3 separate regions of the Homo sapiens genome follow, and all the other regions are linked to region 2. The links come from fine-mapping of genetic effects on plasma protein levels. Region 2 holds a variant in brackets. A gene starts in each other region. All regions are shown on their reverse strands.

Region 1 (8,264 bases), not on the chromosome of region 2:
GGGTGTTTGGGGAAACTGATTTCCTGGGTCTGCAGGGCTGGCGGTGGATCGCCTGAGTGGAGCAAGCCACAGGCTCCTGGGCTTCACTATGGCCACGTGCTGCATGATGACGTTTAGGTCAACAAGGGACCCTGCATAGCACAGCTGTCCCCTAAGATGATACTAAAGCTGAGCGGCTCTTATTGCCTAGTGACATCACAATGTGCCTCATTACCTGTTCTATGTTTAGATGTGTTCAGGTGACACATTCTTACCACGTGCCAAATGGCCCACAGTACTCAGGACCCTCACGAGCCGTGCAGGTGTGCGGCCTGGGAGCAGCAGGGCCTGCCAGGCAGCCTAGGTGCAGAGCGGCTGCACCATCTAGGCGTGTGGCGTGTGGCGTGTGGAGTGCACGCTGTGATGTTTGCACCATGACAAAGTCGCCTAATGACGCATTTCTCAGAACACGCCTGGTCGTTACACATGACTGCACTTTGTGTGGCTTTGGGCAGCCTCAGCTGAAACATGGTGATAGGGACACTGACGCGTCAGGCGCGGGGACTGCAGGGAGAGTGGGAACATTAGCTGCGGCCTCCAGTGCATGCCAGGGACAGCAGCAGGGGCTGGCAGAAGGCTGATGGTGGGCGGGTGGGGGGTCTGAACCTGAAACTTCTGCTACCTGATCTCGCTTGACCACGAGATTGGCTTTTATAAACAGTAAACCGTGACTTCAGTTTCAATGCACACTTCTTCACAGAAGAGCCCTGTCCCTTGGCACCCATTGGGGCTCAAGGCCATGTGCCCAGCCTGATAGACACCCAGTGCCCTGCGCTCTCTGCAATAGCAGCCACAGAAGTTGTGGTGTGGTCACCTCTGTGCACACAGGGAGAAGCACCTGGACAGGTCAGTCAGGACAGACTCTCAGGTGAGTGGACTCAGCTGTGAACAACCTGAGTCTGTGAACCCCTGAATTAACAGCACAGCTGGGAAGACATACTCAGAGTTTTACGCTAAAGCATGAGGTTAGTGGTGAGGCTGCAGCCAGACGGTGCGAAGTGCTCCAAGCTGTGTTGGGGATGGGGGAGGCAGCCATCCGGCAGGGTCCCAGACCCTACAGAAAGCTGATGCACCCCAGGTCCCCTCTGTGCTTTTACCTCCCAAGAATCATGAGAAGAAGAGGGGAAGTGACGTAGGAGATGGGATTTCCCTGAGGAGAAACGCACCGAGACAGTCGGGACCGTAGGTTCCTGGAGAGCAGCACACTTTCAGTGTCTTCACACAAAACCACTCGAATAAGTCAGGATATTCGCTCTTCCTGAGGATGGAGGAAAACATTCACTGAATCCCAGCAGACACGGTTCTTTAAAACAAACATGCAGCTGAACGTAACATATGCTCTGGAGTATTGTAAGGTCCAGGAAACAAGAGTCTAGGTGTGGACAGAATCTTCTCCTTAATTTCCTGGTTTTGATCGCTGACTCTGGTGATAAAAAACGGTAATGCAGGGGTAAGGTGGGTGCGAGGCAGGTGGGAGCTCCCTACTGTTCCTGTACCTTTCTAAGTCTGAGGTTATTTCAAATTCTAAGTTGGAAAATAAAAAGTATCTTCTAAGAGGTTTTAAGGCACTCACAGCTGCAGCCACCAGGCCTCCAGGTGCTCCTCCTGCGCCTCTAGCATCTGATTGCATTCGAAGTCGCTGCTCTCGCACAGCCCCTCCAGGATCTCCAGCAGGCGAATCTCGCTGAAACACAGGCCCACACCGGCCCACCGTCAGCGCCTCCAAGGCAGTGAAGAAAAATCCGAACCAATACGCCAACCTGGGTGCAGGGGCCGGGGAGCCAGGACTCCGGGCACAGAGAATAAGGGGACCCCACTGTCAGGGGAAGCCAGGAGCGGTTCCCACAAGTGGGGCTGGTGTTCCAGTTTACATTTTGAAAAGCCACTGTCTGTTGAGGGGGTAGGGACCAGAGCAGAAGCTGGAAGGCCAGAGAGGGGCCAGCCATTAGTCCTCAGGGAGAAGCCGAGGTGACTCGGACGGGTGACTGGTGCCTCGGGGGCTGTTCTGTCTCCCTGTCATTAACACAGGCACCAAAGGCAGGACACGACTTCCCAGGACAGCGCCAGGCCAAGACCCACAGGGGTGCTCCAGGGCACCCACCTGGACTCGTACTTGGACAGCGTCTTTTCCTCCCAAGCCGTGTTCCCGCCGCCAAAGTTCTTCTTTGCGGTGTCCACCATCCCCTGCGAGGAGACAGTGCCCATAGTGCTTGGTACCACCTGACCCGGGTCCAGGGTGGGGGCGAGCCCAGGTCGAGGGTGAGGGGACTCCAGGCCCACGGTGGCGTCGACCCTGGTTCCACGGTGGGGGTGGATCCGGGTCAAGGGTGAGGGGGACTCCAGGACCACGGTGGAGGGACTCTGGATCGACGGTGAGGGGGATCCCGAATCCAGGGTGAGGGGGACCCCGGATCCAGGGTGAGGGCGACCCTGGGCCCAAGGTGGGGCGACCCCGGATGCAGGGTGAGGGGGACCCCGGGCCCAAGGTTGACGACCCCGCCCGGCCCCTTCCCACCTGGTTAAACTTGTCCACCAGCCCCCGGCACCGGTGGCAGGGCGTCGGCTTCTTGGCGGCCTCCGGCGCGGGCGGCAGCAGCAGCAGAAGCGGCAGGAGCCCCAGCGCGGCCCGGCGCGGCAGGCGCATGGCGGGTAGCGCTGCGGGAAGACGCAGCCGGAGCTCCAGGTCCTGCGGCCGTGCTGCTCCGGCCTCCCGGCCGCCCACCCGCTCCCAGCCGCGCCGGCCTGTCCCCCAGGCTACTTGACGGCGCCGGCGAGGCCCCGCCCCACCCGCCAGCCCCGCGCCGCTATTGGTTGATGGGACCCGCCCCGGCCTGATATGGCCCAATCCGAGTTCGCCACGAGAGGTGACCAATGGGAAGGCCCCGGATCAGCGGCCGCCAGGAGTCCGGGGGCGGGGCGTGCAGGTCCGACCCCGCCTCCCGCTCCCCGCCCCTCGCGCGCAGCCCGCGGCGGCCATCTTTACTCAGGGCACAGAGGGTCTCTGCGGCCGTAGCGGCCGGGGCTGCGGTAGCCACTTTAGATTTGGGCAAGGACTTTAGATTCGGGCTCTGTTCTGTTTCCGCCGTCCTGCTTCCTGCCGAGGCTGGCCCAGGCAGCCGCGCTTCGAAGGACGCCGCCGGGAGCTGCGGAGGTCAGTGCGCGCTGCCGCGACCGGGGCCTTCAGGCGGGCGCGCGGCGAGACCAGGGAGGAGGCGGGCGAGGGCGCGACCCGAGCTGGCGCTGGCGCTGGATTCCTGAGGCCTCACCGCGCATGTCCACGCGTCACAGCCCCGTGCTCCTTACCTGGGGCTGCACCCCTCACTTGGGGCCGGGCTCCTCACCTGGGGCTGGACCTGTCACCTGGGGGCCAGACCTCTCACCCGGGGGCCGGACCTCTCATCCGGGGGCCCGACCTCTCACCTGGGGCTGGACCTCTCACCTGGGGCCGGGCTCCTCACCTGGGGCCGGACCTCCCACCTGGGGGATGGGTTTTTCACCTGGGGGCTGGGGATCTGGGGTCCACTTAGGGTCTCTGGGGGCTGGGGATCTGCATTTCTACAGGCGCTTGAGGTGATGAACACTCGCTCATGTTCAGGAACCCCTGGTTTAAATTAGGGGAAATAAAACGTGCAGCGTCTGGATTTCAGAGAACTCCTGCCTGTGGAAGGAAGGAGTGCAGATAACACTGCACATTTAAAAAAAAAAAAAGTAACATCTGATTTGACCAGTTTCTTTTCTGTTTTTTTGAGACGGAGTCTCACTTTGTCGCCCAGGCTGGAGTGCAGTGGCGCGATCTCAGCTCACTGCAAGCTCCGCCTTCCAGGTTCCTGTGATTCTGCTGCCTCAGCCTCCTAAGTTGGGATTACAGGCACCCACCACCAGGTCCGGCTAATTTTTGTATTTTTAGTAGAGACGGGGTTTCACCATGTTGGCCAGGCTGGTCTCGAAGTCCTGACCTCAAGCGATCTGCCTGCCTCAGCCTCCCAAAGTGCTAGGGTTACAGGCGTGAGCCACCATGCTTAGCCTGATTTGATCAATTTCGGTAGAGGCCTTAAAATCTGGATTGATGGGGACAAGAGGGTCTTTGCAGGTCATTCCCTAATCTGAGATGCCATTGTTCTGTAAACCACCATTTTAAAGTGTCATGGCCTGGGCCCGTTTTAACCTGTGGGTGCTCTCGAAGCACCCGTCACTTAGATTAGCCACAGCTGCTGCCCAGCTGCCCAGCAGAGTGGGCTAGTGCAGGACAGTGTCCGTTCACCCTCGCCTGGTGGGGGGTTCGTCGTGGTTTTCGTGCTTGCTGGTGTTGACTTGGTCTTCCCGTGCTCCTGGCAGAGAATCCAGACTCACCCTTGGTCTTCTCATGCCCTCGAAAGTGAGCTGTGCTGGTCATCAGCAGAAGGCACACCTTGTTGGGTCCGAGGAGGTGCTGGGGGCCCGCCAGGAGTGTCAGAGTCAGCACGTAATGTTTTCACCCCACAGCTGAACTCTTCCTTGCTGGGGAACTCCCCTGGGTGGAGAGGTGTGGAGTGGGGTTGTGGGGGACTGCCAAGCAGCACTTGCTGTGTGCACCTCCCACATCTTGGCACGTAGATGCTCCCCGTTCCGTTTTATTTTTTATTTTTGTAGAAATGGGGTCTCATGATGTAGCCCAAGTTGGTCTTGAACTCCGGGCCTCAAGCAGTACCCCCCATGTCAGCTTCCTGAGTAGCTGGGATTATTTTTGTGGAGATGGGGTCTGGCTCTGTAGCCCAGGTTGGTCTTGAACTCCTGAGTAGCTGGAATTACAGGCGTGAGCCAACACATCCGGCTTGCTTCCTATTTCTTTTTTTTTGAGACGGAGTCTGGCTCTGTTGTCCAGGCTGGAGTACAGTGGTGCGATCTTGGCTTGCTGCAACCTCTGCCTCCCGAGTTCAAGCAATTCTCCTCCTCTGCCTTCCAAGTAGTTGGGATTACAGGCGCACACCACCATGCCCAGCTAATTTTTGTATTTTTAGTAGAGATGAGGTTTCACCATGCTGGCTAGGCTGGTCTTGAATTCCTGACCTTGTGATCCACCCACCTCAGCCTCCCAAAGTGCTGGGATTACAGGCATGAGCCACCACGCCCGGCCGTTGGAACATATTTTTATTTAATTTAATTAATTTATTTATTTATTTTTGAGATGGAGTCTTGCTCTGTCGCCCAGGCAGGAGTGCAGTGGCGCGATCTCGGCTCACTGCAAGCTCCACCTCCTGGGTTCACACCATTCTCCTGCCTCAGCCTCCCAAGTAGCTGGGACTACTCGCCACCACTCCAGCTAATTTTTTTGTATTTTTAGTAGAGACGGGGTTTTACCATGTTGGCCAAGCTGGTCTCGATCTCTTGACCTTGTGATCCACCCGCCTCAGCCTCCCAAAGTGCTGGGATTACAGGAATGAGCCACCGCTCCCGGCTGCTGGAATTTTTAATAAGCACGTGAGCTGGTGTGATGAGAACCCCATGTAGGAGTTTTTACCGATTTCTTCTTCGGCAGCCTTGTTGAGTGCCTACTGTGCGGCAGGCTTTGCTGATTCAGCAGTGAGTCCACCAAGCAAGCCCTGCCCGCAGGATGAGTCCAGCAGGGGAGGTGGCAGCGAGGCAGCCTTCAGGCCACAGCGGCTGGCCTCTGTCCTTGGTGCTGAGGCTGCGCTGGTGGGAAAAATCATCCAGCATCAAAAACCCCCCACCGTCAAAAAGCTTGTGTCTTAGCAAGTGGGAGACAGCTGAGTGGGCCCTCCCTCAGTTAGTGATTCCTAACCTAGTCCTTCGACCTTTCTCTTTGTTTGATACCAAGTTTATTTTTTTAAATTTTTTTATTATCTATTTATTTATTTCTGAGACGGAGTCACGCTCTGTGGCCCAGACTGGATTTCAGTGGTGTGATCTCGGCTCACTGCGGCCTCTGCCTCCTGGGCTCAAGCGATTCTCCTGCCTTAGCCTCCCGAGTAGCTGGGATTATAGGCGTGCACTACCATGCCCAGCTAATTTTTGTATTTTTAGTAGAGACAGGGTTTCACCATGTTGGCCAGGATGGTCTTGATCTGCTGACCTCGTGATCCACCCACCTCAGCCTCCCGAAGAGCTGGGATTATGGGAATGAGCCACCGCACCTGGCCCTCAGCCTCCCAAAGAGCTGGGATTACGGGAATGAGCGACCGCGCCCGGCCCCAGGTTTTTATATTTGGCAAAGGAGAGAACTGCATACCATTTCAGTCGTAAAATTATTAAAGCTTTCTTTTTTCTTTCTCTCCACCCCCTGCCCACCATATCAAATAGGGTTCTCCTTCCTTCTAATCTACAGATTTTCCTTTGGTTGCCATCTTTGTATACTTCTTAACTCTCCGTTTGATCAAAAGATAGTTTTGGCTGGGCATGGTGGCCCACGCCTGTAATCCCAATACTTCAGGAGGCCAAGGTAGGAAGATGGCTTGAAGCCAGGAATTCCATACCAGCCTGGGCTACAAAGCAAGACCCTGTCTTTACAAAAAATAAGAAAACTTAGCTGAGTGTGGTGACCCACACCTGTAGCTGCGGCTACTCAGGAGGCTCAGGCAAAAGGATCCCAGGAGTTTGAGGCTGCAGTGAGCCATGATCACTCCACTGCACTCCAGCTTGGGTGACAGAGTAAGACGCTGTCTCTTAAAAAAAATTTTTAAAGTAGTTTTAATAAATGGTAAGCCCTGGGGTTCTCTCTCCCTTTGCTTCTGGCCCTTCTGGTTTGGATTGAATAAAATCAAATCTGTTTTAAAAGAAGCCAGAAACGTGAAGAGTTTGCCCCCTCCCCTCCCTTGGTCTCTCACGTGTAGCAGCTGGACATGTTGCTGGCCTCTCAGGAAGCTCCGTGCCACGGGCCCCTGAGGTTGTCCTGTTAGTGTTTGGGGGACCCATTGCCAGTCTTCCCAGGCTCACATGCAGGCTCATGGCCAGTGTGGTGCCACCTTTGGGAAAGCCGGCCATGGCTTCTCCCAGCCCCCAGGGTGGGGTTCGGCGCAGGCGTCCACAGCCCCATCCCACCATTCCTGGGAGCGGGGGCTTTGCTGGCCACTCGAGCCCTGTGTCCCAGCAGCTGTACTACGTTCAGTTTCTTGCCCTCCCGGGGCCCCTGTCCACCACTCTCCAGCTTGGTGCCTCCCACCCAGCTAACTGGCACCCCTCAGCCTCCCATTCCGTCTTCTTCAGCCGGTTCCCTCGGGGCCAAGCCTGGGTTTTGCTGACTCTCCTGCCAGATTTAGACTGGGGGGCAGGGGCCATTTACCACCCTCCATTGCCCTCGTGGCCCAGGCCTGGTCAGACTCAGGGTTCTGCGACTGAGATCCTTCTGCCTAGAAAAACATTCACAGAGCTGGAAGTGTCAGATCACTGGTTACAGTATGAAAGATTCTCAAGTGTGATTTTTTCTCCAAACTTTCCATCTTGATGCGTTTTCAGATTTGTAGTAGTGCGACTAAGACAGTAGTTCAGAGAATTCTGCTAACCCTTTACCCGGATCTCCCAAACGTGAGCGCAAGCGTGACTTTCGAACCTCAGGAATCTGTTTCCACTTTTCCAGCATGCGTGGAGTGGCAGTGCTAACGGCTGGTGTCTCGCACTGTTGGCCTGTGAAGGTACGTGAAGCTGAAAGCCTGGAATGGCTGGAAAGGGGTCATCAGGCAGGCGGCCCCTGCTGCTGGGGCTGCTGGTGGCCGTAGCCACTGTCCACCTGGTCATCTGTCCCTACACCAAAGTGGAGGAGAGCTTCAACCTGCAGGCCACACATGACCTGCTCTACCACTGGCAAGACCTGGAGCAGGTGAGGGGCCCCTGCTGTCTTTGGGGAAAACCTCATGTTACCAGCTGGCAGGGCCCCGGTGCACTGACCTGCCCTTCTCCTCGCAGTACGACCATCTTGAGTTCCCCGGAGTCGTCCCCAGGACGTTCCTCGGGCCAGTGGTGATCGCAGTGTTCTCCAGCCCCGCGGTTTACGTGCTTTCGCTGTTAGAAATGTCCAAGTTTTACTCTCAGCTAATAGGTAAGGGGGTCTTCAACAAAGGAGGAGGGAGTGAGGGACTGTGGTGTCATCGGGTGACCTCAGCGAGGCCGCGGTCCCTCCTGCCCAGGAACGCTGTCTGTTAGTCTTGCCTGCCCTCGATCACCGTGGCATGGCGGCTCAGAGCAGGTGCTCAGGTCAGGCCTAAGACGTCTGAGTCAGCCCCTCTGTGCCTCCA
Region 2 (5,998 bases):
TTGTTAATAAACAGCACATTGCTAGCTACAATATTTACATACTTATAAAGGACCAGCTAATTTTAAAAGAATACAAACATTAAAGATGGCAAGGTAAAGCAGAGGAACCTAATGTACTAGACCTGTGGAAGAAATCAATAGTTTACTTAGACATCCTAATGATTTAAAACCAATTGAAATTGGTGAAACCAAGTGAAACTGTGGAAAGTATTTTTAAATGAAACAATATTCTCTCACACTCTTTAGCGGATAAAATTACTGAGATTTCTTCAAATCAAAGGAGCAGCTATACAAGGAGAAATCTCCTTCTCCAACATCTGCTTTCTCTTCCTCATTTTCTCACTGTAATTTTTTGTGTGGCTCATACTCGGAAACATACCTCTAGGGCATTCAATGACTACAAAGCCTTGCCCATTAGGTGTCTACAACCCAATACACTTCATCTATATATGTATCAACCCAAACAGTACAGTATTTGAGACAAAGCTCTCAACCTAGACTTGGGTTTGAACCCAAATTTTGTGGGCTAGTATACGACCTTGAGTAAGTTATTTAATCTCTATAAGCTTTAATTTCCACATTTGTAAAAGGTGGTTATTTAAAGGAGACAATGTGTGTAAATTACCCTTTGCTTAAAATAAATGCCCAATAAATGTTAGCTATTATTGACTGAAAAATCATATCAGGTGGCCCTAAGGTAGGTCAGATTTAAACCTTTGTCCAGTTATGTAATTCTCATAAATTCCTAATAGGGTTGGTATGAGAACAAAGTTTAAAATAAAACAACAACAATACAACGAACAAGAAAGCAAGAAAATTAAGAAGACAGAAAAAGAGATGAATTAAGCAGTCAACCTAGAGTCAGAATTGGTATCTGGAGAATGTTGGTGTCATCCAGGTGACTCCAACAAAACTTCAGGCTCCATCTGACATCTTTGTAAAGAATGAGGGAGATAGTCTGGCAAGTTCCAAGAGAAGATTCATATTGACTGAATATTTAATAAATCTAATAATTTATGTTTGGAAGTATGTAGCTTACAGTGTGTAAAAATTATCAAACTGTCCACTGCGTTTTCTCTGCTGTTATCTCTAAACTTTCCTTTGAAACACACACTGGATATGTAGATTCTTAGACAACCTACTCTTGCACCTTTAGGAAATATCAGAATAAAAGCAAATAGGAAAAATAACCAGATAAGTCAACTTGTGATTATCTAAACTAGCTCTGTCCAACAGATATGTAAGCCATATAGTAGCCACATAAAAAATGTAAAAAAAAAAAAAAAAAAGTGAAATTTCATTTTATTTAACTGAAAAAGTTCATCATACTGTTTTAACATGCAATAGTTTTGCGATGATTAATGAAACCTTTCTTGAAATTAGGTGTGTATTTTATTTACAGCATATCTCAATTTGGACTAGCCACATTTCAAGTGCTCAATAACCACACATACTTAGTGGCTACTATACTGTCCAGTGCATATTAAACTTAAGGACTAGACCAGTAATAGTTATAAATTGCTGACCTCTGGAAGCAATTTTTATATTCTGTAAAATAATATTTTTGATAAGATTTACTGCATTAATTATATTGCTCTTATTTATTTATATTTTACTGGATGGCCAGGATTCTGTTAAGCATTTATGCAATAAAAGACAATAAAAGTAAAAAGCTATAATTATTAGAAAACAAGAGCTAGCAGACAATTATGGTTACCCAAAAAAACTCAAGAATCTCAAGTGAAGAATCATCAGAAATAGAGAATTCAGTTACAAAGCCAGATTTTAAAGATGCTTAAAAAGAAAATCAAACAAATAAGTTTTCATATATATCAGTAAAAAGTTAAGTCTTTAAAAGCCCAAGTAGAACAGTAACAAAAATATTGCATACCTATGGAAATAGTTTATAAAACTTGACCAAAGGACCTAAAAGGTGACTTACAAAAAATCCTGGGCAAAGATGTTATTGTCCCTAAATTAATGAGTTTGTATGCAAAGATAAAGAAATGAGTTGCCAAAACACTTAGAAAAAAAGAAGAGTTAATTTGCCCTTAGAATAGTAACTTAAAACTGCTGTAAAGCTACAAGGTTCAAAACAATATGGTGCTGGGCCAAAATCAAATGAGAACAATGGCATAGAAATGAAATCCCAGATTTAGATCCTACTATAAGTAAGGTTACAGTGTATGATAAGGGGGACATTTTAAATCAGTAATGAGTTAAAAAATGGTAGTAGAATAATTAGTTAACAATTTAAAAAAATCAGGAGCTCTCTACCTCACTTATGTACTAATATGTTTCAGATAGAATAATGTAAATAAAACTGAATAAAGTAGATCATATTTGACCATTTCTGACCTACAGAAAAGTCAATTTTTCATGTAGAGAGATATATATGTAAACAATTACACATATATTTTAAATCTACCATATTAAGACTCACTGCAACTTCTCTGGTGAAAAGTCTATTACTAAGAAGGTGGAGTGGGAAGGGAACTGCTTAAGAGTCAGTTCTGAACAAGAAATTTAGGAATGTAACTCTTTCATGAATTAGAATATCTTTTACCCTGACTTGCTAGATAAAAATTTTCTGTATTTTCAGTAATTAGTATATAGAAAAAAAAAGTATGTATAAGATTTAAACTCATTTAGGGGGAAGAAAACTTACTAAATGATAGATGGATAATAATAGAATTTTAGTTTCACGTTGGGTTTATGTAAGAATCTCCTGAGGGAGAACAGGCAATGTCAGATTGATGGGTCAATTTTGGTACTCTGAATTCTAATTCTGTTTTATGGTCTTCAACATAATTTGATAAATTTCTAGAGAAAGAACAAATTTGCCAATTATGATGTCCCTTTGCTACTACTGTATGTGTATCCAACATCAGATACTCTTAGTAAGATCTTATATGCATTTGGATGTATTTGCTACATGTTTATATTCTTGAATTTGGGTAAATTTTTTATATGGGAAAAGGATACAGAATTAAGGAAAAAAGATCAAGTCATCTTGGAATGGTCAAAATATATTAAGAAAAGTTTACATCAAAAAAGCATCCAAAGTAGTACTCTCACTAAAATAGAAAAACAGACTATCAAAAGTTTCCTTTTAAAGCTGATTACCTAAAGCTTGGGTCAGATGTTCTAGGCCAGGGTCTCTGAACCATGGTACTACTGACATTTTGGGCTAGAGTAATTCTTTGTTGTAGGAGGCTGTCCTGTGCATTTTAGGATGTTTAGCATTTAGTAGGTTTATAATGTAGTGGGTTTCTACCCATTAGATGCCAGTAGCAGCCTCCTAGCTGTAACAACCAAAAATGTCTCCAGACCTTGCCAAATGTCCTCTGGGGGCAAAATTGCCCTGGGTTGAGAATCACTGTTCCAGATGATGATTTGAAAGCATTGCCTTATGAAGATGACAGTAGTAGCATGAAGTGTATTATTTATACGTTAGGTCCACAGAAAAGAAGGCATAGAGAACTAGTGACTTGCCTAAAGGCATTATTAGTAACAGAACTGAGCCTAAAAGCTAGGTTCCATGATTCCTGGTCTCATTCAGTTATTCACTGAAGCAATGCTTATAATAGTGAACACAGCAGACATGTAATTAACATTGATAAATCTCAATGTTGTGTGAAAAGGGCAAGTTGTAGAAAGATATTTATTTAAAAATCTGAAAAACAATACTATAGCATTTTCTTCTTTAAATAACTGAAACAAATGTGGCAAAAAGATTAATATTTGGTAAAGACAGGGGATAAGTACAATGTATATTCTGAAATATTTGTACTACTGGAATACTTCCTAAAATAATGCACTTTAGATAAAATTCTCAGGAATGTGAGCCAAGGCTTATTAAATGCTTACTGTGTGAAGGGCTGTACTATGTTGTAATTACAACAACTAAATAAGACAGGTACATTATGTCCATCTTACAAATGAGGAAACTGAAGCTCAGATGTCATCCAAGGCTCCTGTCCATCCAAGGTTGTTCGGCTATTAAGTGAGAGAGCAGGATTTGACTCTAGGTCTTTCTGAACCTCCATTAAATCCTCCTGATGACTAGAAGGCTCTTTACCCAGATCTTCACCCAACTTGCTCTCTAATAACACTCAGGGTTCTGCTCAAAAGTCACCTCTTTGAGAGGCCTTCTTAATCACCCAAACCAGAGGACTCCATCCCACTCTGGGTCACTCTCCATCCCCTTACTTGGCTTATTTTTCTTCAGGGCACTTACTACTAAAATCCTATTTTATATTTACAAGTCTGCCTGTTTACTGTATATCTCCTCATCCAGAATGTAAGGTTCACGAGAACTGGAAATTGGCTGTGATTTACTTCTACATTCTCAGTGCCTGGCATATAACAGCATCAATAGCTATTTGCTAAGTGACTACTGCTGATTGCTGATGTCCCTGTTCTCATCTATTTTGTTATACTGCCACTCTATTTAAAAAGACTAAGGAAGAGTCCTTGTTGTTGGTACTAAAGAAACATACACATATTAACATGTTTTTATCAACAAAATTCAGTCAGTCCAAGTATTGACATAGTAATAAAATTTCTAAACTTACCTCTACAGGAGGATAATAGTTGTAATTCCAGTACCAAAACGTTCTAGGTAGATAACCTTTAATTAAATGGTGTTCTGGCACAAAGGGATGAAAAGTTTCTTTTCCA[A/T]TGGTATCTCTGGAATCTCCTGCTTCTACATTCATAATTTCCATGCATCTCCCCAGTGCTAAGTCTTCAATGGAGGAACTATGTGTACACTTGTCTGTTTTAAATGCATCAACAAATCTTTTCAAGGCTTCTTTGCTTAGTACATATCCTGCTCCTCCACTCATGTAGCCCTGCTTTACATAAGGCTTAAATCTTCTCCCAAAGTAAATGGGTTCTTCAGGGTCGTATTTTGAAAGAAGCCACCTCAAATTGTCTAGTATGACATACGTGTCATCATCTGCTTTCAAAAACCAATCAGCATCTTCTAAATAATGTTCATGAACATACTGAAAAGCTTTAATTGTTTTCCAGTATAGTTGATCTCTGCCTTCTTTGGTTTTCAGTCCCACAGCAGGGAAGTCTTTATTTTCTTCTGAACTCATAAACAACACTTTGTTACAACGCTGGGCCCAAGTAGCTTTGACGTGTTTGGCCTTTTTCTCTAGGTTTTGAGGGCCGGTCATAACCCAGCAAAGAATTCTAACTTTCTGATAGAGGTTTTCAGCAATGTCTGTGTTCTCATCTATTAAACAAAACATTTTAAAAGGTTATTTACATAGATGTAAAATCCAAATATTAATAAATTATACTGAAGAAAGCACTGTCCTAATTTCAAAGTCCCTATTTATCCCTCTATTAGTGATTTAGCCAAAGGAAAGCAAACTCATCCTAATGTGAACTGACACTCTGATTTATTGGTTTCATGTCAGTGTTATCTAGGACATCACTGGAGCTAGTAAGAGTTGACATTATAATCTAAATTCGTCTCAAACTGTAGTTTACTGATTAAAAGCAGCAGCATCACCTGGGAGCCTGTTAGAAATGCATAATCTTAGGCCCAGACCTACTGACTCAGAATCAGCATTTTAATAAGTTCTCCTGGTGCTTCATAGGCATGCTAAATGCTGCCTTAAATAGTCTCTGCTTGGCACTTCATAAAAGAAAGCAGCCAGTTTTTAATAGATTACTGACAGAAATTTCTCACTGCTCTGAACGAGTTTCTGAAGAGCAGGAAAGACATGCTGCTGAAGTGGCAGTTCATTTTTGAAGTTCACAATAATCCACTATTAAGAATTTCTACAAGTACCCTGAGGTGGTAAAAGGTCAAAGCACAGGAGTTGAGATTACTTTCTGATAGTCACATACCTCATTCCAAAATGTAAATCCACCAATCAAAAACAGAAGAGAACAATGGTAGACATGGGAATTCCAAGATGGTCTAGAGCAGTGCTCTTTAAACTACAGGTTTGCAAAGAAATAAGGAGCTTATACCAGA
Region 3 (8,286 bases), not on the chromosome of region 2:
TCCCATTAATTATTATTGCTATATCCAGAAGGTTTCATTTATTTATTTATTTATTTGCCCAATTCTCTTGGCATAGAGTTTATATGAATCAGAATGTAAAGAAGCCTGTAGATCATCTTGTACCACTATTTTGTTTTGTGGAAGAGAATATTTAAGCCAGATGTAAAGTAATTTGTAGGAGTGTAAGTTGTTTTGCGTAGTGTCTTTTGAAATGTAGGTATGTGAAAGCTGGTAGCTATTGTTCTTAGAACTTTGCAATTCAGATTACCAGTCTAGTGTTCTTATCTGCCTTGGATTATTTGTCATTACTGTTGGGTAAAACCATTCTTTAGACCTGTAAATTGCTCAAGACACTAGGCATTTTTTTTATGGTACTTGATGGGTCAATTTATTCATTTAACACATATTTATTAAGTACCTACTAAGTGCCAGGTGCTGGTCTTGGCATTAATTTAAATGTTAACAGAAAGTATTAAGGAGTGAGTATTGTTTCAAATCCATGCAAATGAGCATTTTGTGGCTAGTCGTGTGTGTGTGTGTGTGTGTGTGTGTGTGTGTGTAATAAGTACGTGTGTGTGTGTGAGAGAGAGAGAGAGAGAATGTTTGTTTCCTTCCTGTGTAAAATCTGCCCAGTTTTCTATCTTAACTGTCATTATATGTCAAACATATACTATTAAAATTAGCTTATTTCTGAAGCATGTCTACACTAAGGTTCCTGGATTTTATTTATGATGAAATGCTAATTTCTCTTTATGAAACAAATTCTTTATTTCATAATTTTGAATAGGATGGTACTTTCAAAAACCTGCATCTGATTAGATTTGGGGCATTAAATATTTCAATATGATAATATTTTTTTCTTGGGCCTGCAGCATTTTAATTTTATTGTCACATAGAAAATTTTTTATTAATATTAAGACTTTGCTTTCAGAATGCTTTGAAATAGTACAAGCAACGTTGTGTAAAATAGTACAGGTGGAGCATCCCTAATCCACAGATCCAAAATCTGAAATGTTCCAAAATTCAAAACTTTTTGAGCACCAACATGACACCACAAGTTGAAAATTCCACACATAAGTACTTTACACAAACTTTGTTTCATGCATAAAATTATTTACAATGTTTTATAAAATTACCTTAAGGCTATGTGTATAAGGTGTATATGAAACATAAATGAATTTTGTGTTTAGACAGGTCTCATCCCCAAGATATCTCTCTCTCTCTCTCTCTCACTCTCTCTCACTCTCTCTCTTTCTCTCTCTCTATATATATGACACTCAACGTGCACAAGTAATGCCACACTCAGAAAAACTGCTTCCTTCTTTAAATTGTCTGTCTCCATTGTAAAACTGACAGTCAAATTTTAGTAACTCCTGATCTTTTTTGTTTCTTCTGTTCTTTTTAGACTCCTCATCCAGCATTTTGGTCCTGTTTGCTGGCTCTCTCTTTTAATAGGTCTACCCTAGCTTCTCTTTTCAGTTGTTATTTGACGTTACTAGTCTTGCTGTCAATGCATCTCAGTCCTTGGATTCCAGATTGTTATTCTATATCCATCTGCTCTGTCCTGATTGTCAGTGAAAAGTGTTGCTCTTCGCCTGGTGGGACATCAAAACTCTGACAATCTTTGGCTCTTCATTCAGAGATGGGTGGTGCGTGCAAAAGGGTACAGGTTTCTTGGTTATACATTTAGGATACCTTACAAATTTTCCAAAGACTAACATTAACCTCTGGTTAGGGGTAAACGACAAAGTGGCACAACGAAGAAGAAGGAGAAGGAGAAGAGAATTTCAGTAGTTAGTATTTTCAGTTCTGGACCTGGACCTAAGGAAAAACACTGCCAAGTTAGTATATCAATACACACAAGTATCTCCTGAACTATTTTTTTGTTTGTTTGTTTTTGGAGGGAAAGGGAGCTTGGCAATTGCTTGTAGGTACTGATATTAAAATGTTGCAAATACATGGAGGTTCCTTGGTGCTCGCAAAATAACCATGACATGTAAAACAAGCAAAGAACTACCTAGTTTACTAAAGTCTTAAACCCTAACTCATAGATGTCCTAGTATAAAATAGCACTATGGATGCTAAAACCAATGTCTTAGAGTAGTCAAATACTAAAGATACACTTGTTGATACTATACTAAACTGTATTTTAAACCTTATTTTTAGGTCACGCATAGCACTAATAAAACAGTGAATAAGCACCATAAGAGCATGTCAAAATGTAGGAGGAAGGCCACAACTAAACTTCATAGTAAAACCTACCACCATGTGATTAAACACGACACCAAAAAGTTTTTAGCTAGTTTTCTATTTATATCCCTAGATATCTTTGGGATAGGGCCAAAGAAATGAGTTCATAGAAAGGTATAAAGGCCATTTTAAGTCCTGGTTTTGGGTGTGTCAATGTTTGTTGCAGCAGCAGAAGGAAGGCTGAAACAGAAAGTTGTGTCATAAATGGAACAAATACTGTTTAACAATTTTTTTTTGTCTTAAAAACAGCAAAACCCACCATCTTCCTGGAGTCTGCGTTGTTCTCTTCCAGAATAGATGTTGAGCTTTTAAACAAACCTGCAGTAGAAGCAAGCCCTCTCCAGGAAATCCCAATCTCTTTCCAAACAGGGACAGCAAAGGTTCTCTCTGTTGTGGCTGTTTTTCCCTCTCTTCTGGGAATTGGTTTGCCTTCTGAGAGCATCCCAGGAAGGGGAGGTGCGCCCCAAATTGGCGAGGCTCTGCCAAATACCAAAGGCTCTTCTTTGGAAGAAGACTCCTCCTTTGGACGTGAGGCGCCCCTACCAGAGCGCCCGCGTACAGAAACGGAAACCACTAGCTGCGCTGAAGTGAGTCAAGTGATGAAATCAAGACTACACGGGAAGGAAGCTCACGAAACCTAACTGGTGACAGAAGCTGCTGAACCCTGCCCGAAGAAACCACATGAGCCAGCAGTTGCTGCCCTCCCGAAGTGGTCCTCGGAGGCAGCGCACCCCTTCATTTTGGCGAACCGAGGAGGAAGGGAGGAACCGTGTGGGGGAAATCTAGAACTTCTGGTTCCCCAAGGACCCAGCAGACTGTGTTCTGGCTACAAGGTGATCACTGCCACCAGGTCAGTGCAGGATTCCTCCAATGTAGATGGGCCGGGAGCCACAACTTGCGCGGAGCAGCAGCCTCGCCGACCACTCAGAGAGAAGCCGCGCGACAGCCAGGCTTGGCCCGGACGGCGCCCCCACCCTGCGCGCGCGATCCAAGGTTCTCACCTGGAGCGCTCAGGTAGGGCTGGGGCGGGGCGGGAGGCTGGCGCGCAGGCGCGGAAGTGGGGCCTCGCCCCTGCCGACGTCGCAGGCTGGAGCTCACCTGGGAGACTCCAAGTGGAAGCCGAGCCTCGGTTCTGCCTCTCCAGGCAACGCGGGAGGCCCAGCGGGAAGGCAGGAGGCGGCGGCGGAGGAGGAGCTCTACTGAGCCGCAACTGTGGCGACAGCAACCGGAGTCGCAGCCGCCGCCACCTGCACCTGGCGCCTAGCCCACGTCCAGCGCCTGCCCGGCCGCCGCTTCCCGCCACCCTGCCCTGCCCACCCGCCAGGTAAGCCGGCGGCAGGCGGAGGGAGACGCGGTACCCCTGGGCTGCGTTAGAGCAGGCGGGAGGACGGCCGCAGGGGTTCACGTGTTGGGGACAGGGCTACGGTCCAGGTGGCCGGTTGGAGACGGTCTCGAGAGCAGTGTGTCGGTTGCCCCTGGAGAGATCCCGAAAGGGGCGCCCTGGGCCAAGGGGCAGGTGGCGCCTCGGGGGGGAGCCCGGTCACACCCTCTCGCCCACGGTGCCCCCGCCAGTCCCTATGGGGCGGCCCCTGAGGAGCTGGACGGAGACCAAAGACCTGGTGGCCCCGGACTTGCCCTTGGGAGGGTCGCAGCGTGGGGACCCTGAGAGGGAGGGCCCGGCGGGAGGCGGGCGCGCTTCCACTCCGGCTAGCAGGTTGCCTGTCTCCTCCAGCCTCTCTGCCCGAGAGGACATCCCGCGACAGCGAAAGACATGGCTTTGCCAGGCAACTTTCCTAGCCGGGGACCCCAAACAGTTCTAGGCTGCAAACCGCGGCCGCCGAGCCATTTAAATGGTTTCCGAGTGGTTTGGAAAGGGCTCTGTGGCCGGGACGCGGACACCCCTCTCTCTCTGTTTCGACTCTGCACTTTTCCGGGTGCGCTCTCCAGGCCAGAGTTGGGCCCACTTTCCTGATCAATGGAGAAGAGTTCTTTTCTTCCGTGGCGGGAAGAAATCCAACTGCCACGCACCAACCACTCACCATCTCGTTAGAGGACCTGTTGACTTAAGGACCTGCATATCGCGGCTATGGTTTGCCTGTGGCATATGACTCAAAGGTTCAAAAAAACATTGTTTCAGGATCCTGCCACGTCTAAGCTTGGGTGTGCCAGGCCCAGATTCCTTTCCCTGCCTAATTAGGCTTTTCTGAAGCCTAAGAATTGAGGGTGAAACTGGCGCTTACCTTAGACTTTTATTTCCTTCTCTTTCCAACTCATCAAAGAAACTATTTCTGTTTTAAGAACCCCATCGAGTTACCAATATTTCCGATTCTTGAAAACGTTAACATAACTTGCTATAGAAGTTACACTACATAATGAAGACATTTACAGTCAAATTCTATAGCTAAAAAATATTAAAGTGACAGCATTTTAATTAGAAAATCTCTGCTTGTGGGAAAATCTGTTGCTTCTTTTATTGTATATATTTTTCTTTGCGTTTGTGGCTAAAATCCATGAGGTTAAAGTCACACGCTGCCATTAGATTCTTTTTTTTAATTTAACTTTTAATATCTGAAATCTAGTGCACATGTTAAACTTTCCAAGCAATTTGTACCGAGAATCAATCTTTATATATTGCTTTAACCAACATTTTTACGTAGAAGTTTCTGATAATAATAACAATTCCATTGTTTTGTTCTATCTCCACACATTTTAAAAATATTTTTTAAATTGCACGTTTTACTTAAAATGCCTGATGCAACATGTAGTGGGGTTATTTTTCTTCTTCTTTTTAAGATTAGATGGAAATCTAAAAGCCAACCACAGCATAACATGATGTAATTATTAATTCAATCACCACTTTTCTACATTTCTTAAAAGGATCTCACCTGACCTCTTAATCTTGTCTCCATACAGAGAAACAAATGTGCTAAATACTGTTTAAATATGAGATATAGGAGTTGTTCCCTGAATTTTGAATATTAGTCTTCATTACTTACTAGGCAGATGTTACCAGACTGTCTTTCCTCTTAACCTCTAGTGAGAAATGTAACATGTTTTCATTAGCTAGAGTAACAGTGTAACTTAATCTATCTGTTAAATAGGAAAAATAATACTTTCCTAGATTAAGATAACAAAACCTTAAAAACAATCAGGAGTATCTTCCAGCCCTAGCATTCTCGAGATCCCTTTCTCACTTTGGAGATTCAATACTCAAACCATCCATTTATGAAAAATTGAAGCCAAGAGAGGTATTCTAACTTCATTTCACTCAGAGATGGCATGATCATTCCAGTGGCTTGACTCATGACTCCTGTATCTTACTTTTCACCACCCACATCCTCACTTACCATAAGATGTTTATCTTTTTTCTTTCATATAATTTGTAAGGCCTTTGTAATTACAGAATTGTCCATTGCTCTTTCTTCACTCTGATTTACCCTCATTTCTACTTGTCCAAATATTGCCTGACTTCGTGGAAACTACCCAGTGAAGGCATCATGCTCCTCTCATTGTGGAATAGCATGCATATTGATGATGCCATGTCAGTTGAGACTTTTAGTTCCTTCTTGGTATTTCCAAGCCACAGTTAATTTTTTAAGTCAATGTGGATAACATTATTTAGTCTTCTGATCTTTTTATTATATTGGCTTAAAATATATTTTATGAGGCAGCTACCCAGTGCCTTTCATCCATTTGCAACACTCCAGATTTTTTATTTCAAGCACACTTCCTTAACACTAAGTTTCTTTAAACTTTTTTTTCCTTTTACTGCAATCCTCAATAACTAATTTATTCTCTGCCTCAACTCTGTAAACTCCAATGTGAGTGTATATAAATGAAACAAGTTTTATTAATATAAAACAGTGCTTAACCTTACAACATGTATGTTCTTTATTATTTTATTTTTAAAAACGTTGGTCTAAACAATTAGACTGCTTTATGACCACGAAAGTGCTGGAGCCCTCAATGTGAAAATAGCACTATTCTGTTGAATTTTTGTTCTTTTAAAGGCTGATTTTTCTACCAGCTTTCTTTTTCTCTGTCTCATACATGCGTATACACACACACACACACACACACACAGGCACACACCCACTCACATGAAAGAAAATAAATTATTTCTTAAAAACTTTACTGTAATCCTAATTAAACATGTATTGTAGGGCTTGAGGCTCCAGGACCTTGGTGCTAGATTAAATCTTTCAAATATTAAGAACTACATGAAACCTTGTTCATTATACATATTTTGTGTTAAATGGGTTCTCATCATGCTGTAGTGTATTTGGGAACAGGAAAAACTAGAAATATTTTTTTCTGAGGGGATTTTGATGATAAGAATTCAGTGAAATTTTGAGGGAGAAACCTTCTGTCCAGCTCTATTCTGAACTCTTAAAGTTTTATGACTGAGTTAGAGTTCTGGGTGGAGTCTGAAAATTTATTAGAGAAAACATAGCCAGTTTATTATTTGGTTTATATTCTGTTAATATTTAATGCTTTTCTTTTTTACTATGAAACAAGTATGAGACAAATTGTAGGAATTACACTCCCCCTCTCCACAAAAAGACTACATTGAGAGATTAAAATAGATCCCTCAATGATTTGTAGGAATGTAGTCTTGGAAGCTCTGATTGGATAATTAAGCCTTCCGTAGACACTTTCAATTTTAACCTGCCTTTACATTCTTGGTGGGTGAAATATTTCTCCTAAGGAAAATATTATCATATTTAGGATTTTAGAAATGATCAGTGCCTGAATCATCTTCACATGTATTCAGTTCTTTAGTCCATCAAGTGCAAAAATACATTTGGAATGATAGATACTTTATAGATATAAAATCCTATTGAAAAGGAAGGTGTTTTCAGTTAGCTGTTCAATTATGCATTTAGTTAGTATCAAAATAATTCATACTATGTAATTTGGGTGAAATTTAACACAACTCATGTACACTAAGGGGGAAAACTGAATTCAAATCAATTCCAGCAGTGGCAAGAGACAAAAGTACATTCACTTATTGCAAAGCAAAGACAAGTAGGACTCTGAATTCTAGGTCATTAGAGACTACTGACAATTATATGACACTTCCTTGGGTCATTCTCAGAGTTGGGCTCTTATTTTTGGCACTAAAGAGAGAATATTCCCCCAAGTACACCTTTTCCCTATAATTGTTTCAGTTTCAAACTGTCCAAACTAATTTTCTTTTCTATATGATTGCCTATTGGACATCTTTAACATTTGTTCATCACTGGAGATTATATATGTTCAAACCAGAACCTTCATCTCATCAAAAAACAAATGAACAAACAACCTGCTCACTCTCTGTATTCTATTTATAGATAGTAGTACATTGTACCATTTCTTATCTATAATTCAAAAATCATCCTCTGAAAACAAAGCAAAACAAAATTTAACTCATTTGTTAGCAAAACTTGAACTCAGTTGGAGCAAAGCCTGAGTGAACTGTCAGGAGGCTATTGTGATTGTGTATTCAACTTAGTGGATTATGTCCAGCTGCAGAAATAGTGCTGTTTGATTACATAATACTGCCCAGGCCCTGCTGGGGTACACTTTTACATTGATTATGTAAACCATATCACCTTTCTAACATCCAAAAAAATCAGATTTTTTTTTTTTTTTATGAGACAAGGTCTCACTATGTTGCCCAGGCTGATCTTGAACTCCTGGACTCAAGTGATCCTTCCATGTCAGCCTTCCAAGTAGCTGAGACTACAGGCTGTCAAATCCTGAATTTTGAAATATATTTTGCTGCAGAGATTTGGGAGAGTGAATCATAAATGTGTACTACCATCCAGGTGCCATACCAGAAATCCAGAGGTAATTTTAAACTCTTTTTCTTAGCCTCTACAACTGCTATGGTCTGAATGTTTGTGTTTTTCCAAAATTCATATGTTGAAATCAAATCCAATGTATTGGTATTAGGAGTAGGGTCTTTGGGAGGTCATCAGGTCACGAGGGCCTTGGCCTCGTGTGTTTTTGTAAAAGATAATGTCCTTATAAAAGAGGACTGAGAAAGCTTGT

Which allele goes with the higher level. Alleles are on the strand shown, and positions count from the first base shown. The strength of an association depends on the size of the effect and on how common the allele is.
For the plasma level of the protein whose gene starts at base 2,819 in region 1, A is the low allele of the variant in region 2 and T is the other (weak association).
For the plasma level of the protein whose gene starts at base 3,342 in region 3, A is the low allele of the variant in region 2 and T is the other (weak association).

Evidence for each region. PIP is the chance, under the fine-mapping model, that this variant and not a neighbour inherited with it causes the effect. The UK Biobank Pharma Proteomics Project read protein levels with antibody pairs (Olink). The fine-mapping took linkage between variants from a reference panel, not from the people measured, so its PIPs are less certain.
Region 1: it holds the start of CRELD2, and the variant in region 2 is fine-mapped to the plasma level of the CRELD2 protein (UK Biobank, PIP above 0.99).
Region 3: GALNT3 starts here. The variant in region 2 is fine-mapped to the plasma level of the GALNT3 protein (UK Biobank, PIP above 0.99).

What each region holds. Positions count from the first base shown.
Region 1 is chr22:49,913,189-49,921,452 of GRCh38, reverse strand. It overlaps CRELD2 (CRELD disulfide isomerase 2), which reads right to left and starts at 2,819. Exons shown (of 10, transcript NM_024324.5): 1 at 2,555-2,819; 2 at 2,141-2,223; 3 at 1,613-1,723; 4 at 1,206-1,297. The coding sequence starts at 2,683. ALG12 (ALG12 alpha-1,6-mannosyltransferase) reads left to right here and starts at 3,015. Exons shown (of 10, transcript NM_024105.4): 1 at 3,015-3,190; 2 at 7,610-7,849; 3 at 7,936-8,068. The coding sequence starts at 7,688. RefSeq lists silencers at 2,616-3,115, 3,226-3,425.
Region 2 is chr7:7,237,502-7,243,499 of GRCh38, reverse strand. C1GALT1 (core 1 synthase, glycoprotein-N-acetylgalactosamine 3-beta-galactosyltransferase 1) reads right to left here. Exons shown (of 4, transcript NM_020156.5): 3 at 4,578-5,245. Among named protein-coding and RNA genes, the nearest start is that of LINC03016, 15 kb to the left of the region's middle. The variant A/T (reference allele first, on the strand shown) is at 4,684.
Region 3 is chr2:165,789,303-165,797,588 of GRCh38, reverse strand. GALNT3 (polypeptide N-acetylgalactosaminyltransferase 3) reads left to right here and starts at 3,342. Exons shown (of 11, transcript NM_004482.4): 1 at 3,342-3,574. It overlaps LOC124906086, which reads right to left and starts at 4,003. Exons shown (of 6, transcript XM_047446887.1): 1 at 3,797-4,003; 2 at 3,252-3,670; 3 at 2,510-2,789. The coding sequence starts at 4,003. RefSeq lists silencers at 3,400-3,549, 3,620-3,709 and enhancers at 2,780-3,685, 3,686-4,592.